Homo sapiens: one gene and its partner. The protein of the gene in region 1 interacts with the protein of each later gene in a pairwise test. Each region holds a gene or a part of one and is shown in the gene's direction. Other genes may lie near its edges. The genes, in order: SLC20A1 and MAPK6.

Region 1 (3,821 bases):
AGGTGGGAGATTGCATGGGAGACTCCGGTGACAAACCCTTAAGGCGCAATAATAGCTATACTTCCTATACCATGGCAATATGTGGCATGCCTCTGGATTCATTCCGTGCCAAAGAAGGTGAACAGAAGGGCGAAGAAATGGAGAAGCTGACATGGCCTAATGCAGACTCCAAGAAGCGAATTCGAATGGACAGTTACACCAGTTACTGCAATGCTGTGTCTGACCTTCACTCAGCATCTGAGATAGACATGAGTGTCAAGGCAGAGATGGGTCTAGGTGACAGAAAAGGAAGTAATGGCTCTCTAGAAGAATGGTATGACCAGGATAAGCCTGAAGTCTCTCTCCTCTTCCAGTTCCTGCAGATCCTTACAGCCTGCTTTGGGTCATTCGCCCATGGTGGCAATGACGTAAGGTCAGTTGACATTGATCTTAGTGTTGCTAACCCTATTTTTAAACCATTTATCCTTGTCACAGGCCTGTGCTTGTGGTAGTGGTACTCCTAGCATTTACAGGACCCCAAATAATACAAATAGGATGAGGTAATAGCAGTTATTGACATAATAAGACAGTACAGTTTTATTCTTCAGAGGAATTACAAAGAATGTTTATTTTTGTAGATGATAAATATAAACAGATACTCTTCACAGAGAAGGCTTTTGTCCATCAAGATGAGATTCAGTTCTTTGGTAGTGAATTGTGGGATGTAAGATGTAAGATGAAAAACTTAAAAGTTTTTCATATAGAATGATTTTGTAGTTTGGTTTGTAAACTGTTTATTGGAACCTGAGAGTTGCTTTAAGCTGCCTATAGGAGGAAAGAGGCCACCATTTGCCTGGCATTCCCTCCATCAGAGCTGTGTTCATTTTTCTGTTGTGTATGTTGGGGTTCCATTTATGTCTTTAGAAAGAAAGGCCCTTTTGCCAGATGAGCTTGAAAGCTGTACTTTAGACAACCTGGTAGATCATTCAGCAGATTGGGTCTTGCCAAGATCTAGTTCTGCCTGAAAAGTCACTTCTGCCCTCTTTGTTTCTTCCAGCAATGCCATTGGGCCTCTGGTTGCTTTATATTTGGTTTATGACACAGGAGATGTTTCTTCAAAAGTGGCAACACCAATATGGCTTCTACTCTATGGTGGTGTTGGTATCTGTGTTGGTCTGTGGGTTTGGGGAAGAAGAGTTATCCAGACCATGGGGAAGGATCTGACACCGATCACACCCTCTAGGTAAGTAGGTGGAGCAGGTTCTACAAATGTCAGTACTCATTTTTTTCAGAGATATAACACTGTCGAGTGCTAACACAAATCTCTAAAGTAACCAAGTTTGTATAAGTTCATGATGTTCTTATTGTCATTGTTCTTTTTAGATTTTACTTGTCTGGCCCTTAAACATTTTGGTCAGACATTTTACCCATTTAGCTCTGGTGGTCTCTGAAGAAAATGACTTTTCTGAGAAAGCTGTGTATGCTAAGAGCGGATAGTTATGTATACTTGCCTTTTATTTGTCTTGGGAGCTAAGACTCAATGTTTACCAAACTCTTCAAAATAAAAGTGCAAATTTTATTTAATAGTGGGATTCCAGAAAAACGTAAAACTGGAAGCCTTTGAATAAGGAAACTGGGCATCTGTGGCCTGATTTAAATAAAGTAGATCTTAGGGGTTATAGCAAATAAAGATGTCAGTGGAGGTTTTGTGACTGAGTAGAACAAAGCAGGACTGTGTTAACTTGAGGTGTAGTGTTAGCTTCTCAAAAAAGTCAAACTCACTTCCTGACAAGAATCCTTTTGTGTCTGTAGTGGCTTCAGTATTGAACTGGCATCTGCCCTCACTGTGGTGATTGCATCAAATATTGGCCTTCCCATCAGTACAACACATTGTAAAGTAAGTGTAATGCCAATGTGTGTCTTTCAAATGGTTCTTCTAATATGTAGGGTTTTTAGTTTTACTTCTCTGATACTTTGATTTAGAAAGTTTTGTGCAGTTGGAGTCTTGAAGAGTTCATAAGTTATTTCTTGTGTTTATTCTTATTTAAGCAATTAAATAGATATTCTCCCCAAATAATAGAAACATTGTTTTATATACAGCTTACTGTAGTTTCTGGCTACTAACCTCTTCCTTTGTTACTTTATCCTCCCTCATTGTAGTCTCTTTATAATAATTTTTTTTTTAATCTCAAGAGTCATTTCTACTTGGCACCATTATGTTTTATTTATTTATGTATGAGTTGGAGTCTTGCTGTGTCACCTGGGCTGGAGTTCAGTGGCACAATCTCGGCTCATTGCAACCTCCGCCTCCTGGGCTCAAGTGATTCTTGTGCTTCAGCCTCTCAAGTAGCTGGGATTATAGGCACCCGCCACCATGCCTGGCTAATTTTTGTATTTTTAGTAGACACAGGATTTCACCATGTTGGCCAAGCTGGTCATGAACTCCTAACCTCAGGTGATCCACCTGGCTCGGCCTCCCAAAGTGCTAGGATTACATGCGTGAGCCACCGCGCCCGGCCGACAGCATTATGTTCTTTGCCTTTGGGGAAGCCATTCAGAGCAGGGTAGGTGTATGCTTAGAAACTGGCAGGTGCTTTAATTCTGGCCAGGTGGGTTTCTGCTGCCATTTGTGGTGGCTGAAGGCCTGGTTCTAACAAGTCTGTGAGGCTTGCCAAAATGTTGGCAAAGCAGTTTATTTACAGAAGGCATATTTCAGGGCCTCTCAGGATTGAAATACTGAGAAACAAAACAAATCTTAAGGTTGTTTGATGACAATCTAATAATTATAGGAGAAGGAAGAAACTGGTTTCCTTAAGAGCATTTAAGCTGGTCCATCATGGATCCTGCTGAGTCATCTGTTTGCTACCCGGATGTGTCTCCAGACAATTGTTTATTAGGTTTAATATCAGCCACTCTGTAAATAATCTTAGGAAGACTTACAATGCAATTTGTTATTAAAAGCAGTGTATAGGCCAGGTGCAGTGGCTCATGCCTGTAATCCCAGCACTTTGGGAGGCCAAGGCAGGTGGATCACAAGGTCAGGAGTTTGAGACCAGCCTGGCCAACATAGTGAAACCCCATCTCTACTAAAAATACAAAAAATTAGCTAGGCGTGGTGGTGGGTGCCTGTAATCCCAGCACTTGGGAGGCTGAGGCAGGAGAATCACATGAAACCAGGAGGTGGAGGTTGCAGTGAGCCAAGATTGCGCCACTGTACTCCAGCCTGGGCGACAGTGCGAGACTCCGTCTCAAAAAATAAATAAATAAAAGCAGTATATATTCATTAAATTTTAGCAGTAGCTGAGAAGGGGAAAAGAAATAGTTCTTGTGTCCTTTTACTACCGTTAGTATAGATTATGATTGGATTTTCAAATTGCCTTCATTTTCCCAGCTTAACCTGTTGTAAACCAGCTTTCTTGGACTTTGTCTTGTCCAGGGGTCTGGGGCTCCTTGTCCAAACAGTCTCAGGTGTCTGTTTGCCAGAATACCACTGGCACTTCAATAACCTGTTTCCTTGGTCTGCTTCTCTTCTAGGTGGGCTCTGTTGTGTCTGTTGGCTGGCTCCGGTCCAAGAAGGCTGTTGACTGGCGTCTCTTTCGTAACATTTTTATGGCCTGGTTTGTCACAGTCCCCATTTCTGGAGTTATCAGTGCTGCCATCATGGCAATCTTCAGATATGTCATCCTCAGAATGTGAAGCTGTTTGAGATTAAAATTTGTGTCAATGTTTGGGACCATCTTAGGTATTCCTGCTCCCCTGAAGAATGATTACAGTGTTAACAGAAGACTGACAAGAGTCTTTTTATTTGGGAGCCAGAGGAGGGAAGTGTTACTTGTGCTATA
Region 2 (3,821 bases), on another chromosome or scaffold:
TAGTATGAATTTGTAATGAGCCAGATATGGGATATTGCAGCTAGTTTTCATCAGTTTTGTGTGGCCAGGGAGCAGAGAGAGTAGATGGTGGTGGTGATCCAGGGTTGAAGGTTGATATCATAAGGCATAGAAGTGTGTGGCTGGTGTAAATATAGCTTTCAGGCTGCGTGAGGAACTAAGGAAGGCCTACTAGACTATTTTATGGGAAGAACTGGATTTGTGGTTAACCAGAGTCCTAAGATGTGCAAGGTCAGTGTGTGAACTATGCTGGAGTGTGATGTGAAGCAGAGATCAAGAAATTAGTACAACAGAGATGTTTTACTGTTGTACTTCCCATCAGTGAAGGATGGGAAAGGGCTTTTATTACATACCAGACACTATGATTACATCTCATTTTTGTACCTTATGAAATATCTATGTCTACTTTATGCATGAAGAAACTGATGTTCATCAAGTTTTAGTAGCCTATCCAGCACTACAGTGCTAGTAATTGAGTTAAGCCAGTGACTTGCAGAGCTAGGATTAAAACCTATATATTAGGCCGGGATTACAGGCGTGAGCCACCACACTCAGCCAGAAAATCGTTTTTAAGTTGTAAATCAGGTAAGTTTTATTTCTGACAAATTAACTTTTTAATTGTGTAGTCCATTTTTCCCTTTTATAAGATGGGGACCTATTAGTACAATTAAGATGCTCATTTCCTGTTGTGTAGTATGTAGTGCTAAGGTAATCACTTAGCTAGTCATTGAAATAAATGAGATCAACATTTACTGTTTTTCTAAAGGTAAGCAATTCTTTTCTGAAAAACTTTTACCTTTTCCTCTGCAGCACTGGATTTCCTGGAACAAATTTTGACATTTAGCCCCATGGATCGGTTAACAGCAGAAGAAGCACTCTCCCATCCTTACATGAGCATATATTCTTTTCCAATGGATGAGCCAATTTCAAGCCATCCTTTTCATATTGAAGATGAAGTTGATGATATTTTGCTTATGGATGAAACTCACAGTCACATTTATAACTGGGAAAGGTAAATTGATCCTAAATTAGAAAAATAATATTTACTGAACTTTCAGTGGACCATATGTAGTGAGTTTTTTTAAAATTATGTATAAGACATTGTAGAAGTCTTAAAAATTTAGTAATGTAAAGATACAAAAATTAGTCAGGTGTGGTGGCAGGCGCCTGTAGTCCTAGCTACTTGGAGGCTGAGGCAGGAAAATCACTTGAACCCAAGTGGCCGAGGCTGCCGAGATTATGCCACTGCATTCCAGTCTGGGCAATAGAGCAAGACTCCATCTCAAAGAAAAATTTAGTAATGGTCCTTAATATTTATATCTATAAATAGCCGTTAATTAAAACATTTAATAAAGTAATTACTGGTTAGATGATATATGGGAAAAGTTAAATGCTACTTTGAAACATTTTCAAAGTCATTAAGGCATATTTATAAAGTCCTTTAACTGTGATTTTATGAATGTCAAAAATTTAAGATGTTAGATGACAAGACTCAGTCATATCCAATAAAGTATCTCCAGTGTCTCAGTGGTAGTTATATCTTAACATAAAAAGTATTTGATTCATATTAGATGCAGGATTTTTTTTTTTTTTTTTTGAGATGGAATCTCACTCTGTCACCCAGGCTAGAGTGCAGGCTGGAGTGCAGTGATGCAAGCTCAGCTCACTGTCCTGCCTCAGCCTCCCGAGTAGCTGGGATTACAGGTACCCAGCTAATTTTTAGTAGAGGTGGGATTTTATGTTGGCCAGGCTGGTCTCGAACTCCTGACCTCAGGTGATCTGCCTGCCTTGGCCTCCCACAGTGCTGAAATTATAGGCGTGAACCACCGTACTCAGCCAGTATTTGAATCTGTTTTCCTAATGACACAATTAATTTGGGGACACTTAACATAGGTTCAGTAAAAGAGACTTTTTTAGGTCTAAACATTAGTGTATAATGTTATCCATATTTTGATGTTTCATAAAGTGAAATAATTGGATTTCTAGGAAAGTTTGGCTGGGCGCGGTGGCTCATGCCTGTAATCCCAGCACTTTGCGAGGCTGAGGCAGGCCAATTACCTGTGGTCAGGAGTTCGAGACCAGCCTGGCTAACGTGGTGAAACCCGGTCTCTACTAAAAATACAAACATAAGCCAGGCTTGATGGCGGGCTCTTGTAGTCCCAGCTACTCAGGAGGCTGAGGCAGGAGAATCACTTGAACCTGGGAGGCAGCAGTTGCAGTGAGCCGAGATTGCACCACTGCACTCCAGCCTGGGCGACAGAGCAAGACTCCGTTTCAAATAAATAAATAAATACATTTCTGGGGAAGTTTAGATATAATTCTGCTTCAGAGTAGGATGGTAGCTTATAGAGTCATCAGGTGATTTTGATGCTTCAGAGTAGGATGGTAGCTTATAGAGTCATCAGGTGATTTTGATGTATGGCCAAGTTTGGGAACCACTAATGCCAATCTTTTTAATCTTAAGATTTTAAGAAGAAATTTTTTTCCCCCTCCTCAAATGTTGATGTATTGGTATGGTATGTTTACACAAATCTGCAAACTACTTTTTTTCTCCATGTGTCCATTTCTACCCCCTAAATAATGGTTCTTTTCTTTTTTGAGACGGAGTCTCACTCTGTTGCCAGGCTGGAGTGCAATGGTGCCCATCTCTCTGCTCACTGCAACCTCCTGAGTTCAAGCAGTTCTCCTGCCTCAGCCTCCCTACTAGCTGGGACTATAGGCACCCGCCACCATGTTCAGCTAATTTTTGTATTTTTAGTAGTGGGGGTTTCACCATGTTGGCCAGGCTGGTTTCAAACTCCTGACCTCAAGTGATCCATCCACCTTGGCCTTCTTGAAGTGCTAGCATTGCAGGCCTGAGCCACTGCACCTGACCTGCATTTTCTATTTTACCTAGCTAAGTTATCTAATCTCTTTTCTTTTCCCTCAATGATTATACATGTCAGTAATAGGATAGCGCATTCAGCAGCACGTATACACAGGGAGATTTTTGCTATTCATGGTGATGAGTTTTCCAGCAAACCTCCTCCTCTTCTAGTTGCCCTTACTGTAGAGTAAACATTTAGCAAACCTCCTCCTCTTCTAGTTGCCCTTACTGTAGAGTAAACATTTGTAAGGTACCTGATTGAGATTTGAGATCTGCATTTTGTGGCTATGAAGTCTTTTGTTTGCATGGAACTGGTGGACAAAAAACAAATTGGAAATGAAGTTACATACTGCATTGGCAATTACCAAATATATTAACAGAGCTTTCCTATCAAGACTAAGTTCTGGTAGGGCAAGGCAGGCATATTTACTCTCCTATAATTATCCCCTCATAGACCTAGCACAGTGCTGTCACATAGAAGGTACTCGGTGAATTTGAAAATGAAATCATATACGTAGAATAACGCTAGTGTATTGATTTTTTTCAGGTATCATGATTGTCAGTTTTCAGAGCATGATTGGCCTGTACATAACAACTTTGATATTGATGAAGTTCAGCTTGATCCAAGAGCTCTGTCCGATGTCACTGATGAAGAAGAAGTACAAGTTGATCCCCGAAAATATTTGGATGGAGATCGGGAAAAGTATCTGGAGGATCCTGCTTTTGATACCAATTACTCTACTGAGCCTTGTTGGCAATACTCAGATCATCATGAAAACAAATATTGTGATCTGGAGTGTAGCCATACTTGTAACTACAAAACGAGGTCATCATCATATTTAGATAACTTAGTTTGGAGAGAGAGTGAAGTTAACCATTACTATGAACCCAAGCTTATTATAGATCTTTCCAATTGGAAAGAACAAAGCAAAGAAAA

What was found.
Region 2: the proteins of SLC20A1 (region 1) and MAPK6 interact in a two-hybrid assay, tested with the Homo sapiens proteins (one large-scale study listed by BioGRID and IntAct).

The regions. Positions count from the first base shown.
Region 1 is NC_000002.12:112,659,351-112,663,171, forward strand, and holds part of SLC20A1 (sodium-dependent phosphate transporter 1), read left to right. Parts: coding exon 1-412; intron 413-1,036; coding exon 1,037-1,222; intron 1,223-1,791; coding exon 1,792-1,876; intron 1,877-3,513; coding exon 3,514-3,675; 3' UTR 3,676-3,821. UniProt on the Homo sapiens protein: Sodium-phosphate symporter which preferentially transports the monovalent form of phosphate with a stoichiometry of two sodium ions per phosphate ion. May play a role in extracellular matrix and cartilage calcification as well as in vascular calcification.
Region 2 is NC_000015.10:52,060,471-52,064,291, forward strand, and holds part of MAPK6 (mitogen-activated protein kinase 6), read left to right. Parts: intron 1-828; coding exon 829-1,030; intron 1,031-3,431; coding exon 3,432-3,821. UniProt on the Homo sapiens protein: Atypical MAPK protein. Phosphorylates microtubule-associated protein 2 (MAP2) and MAPKAPK5.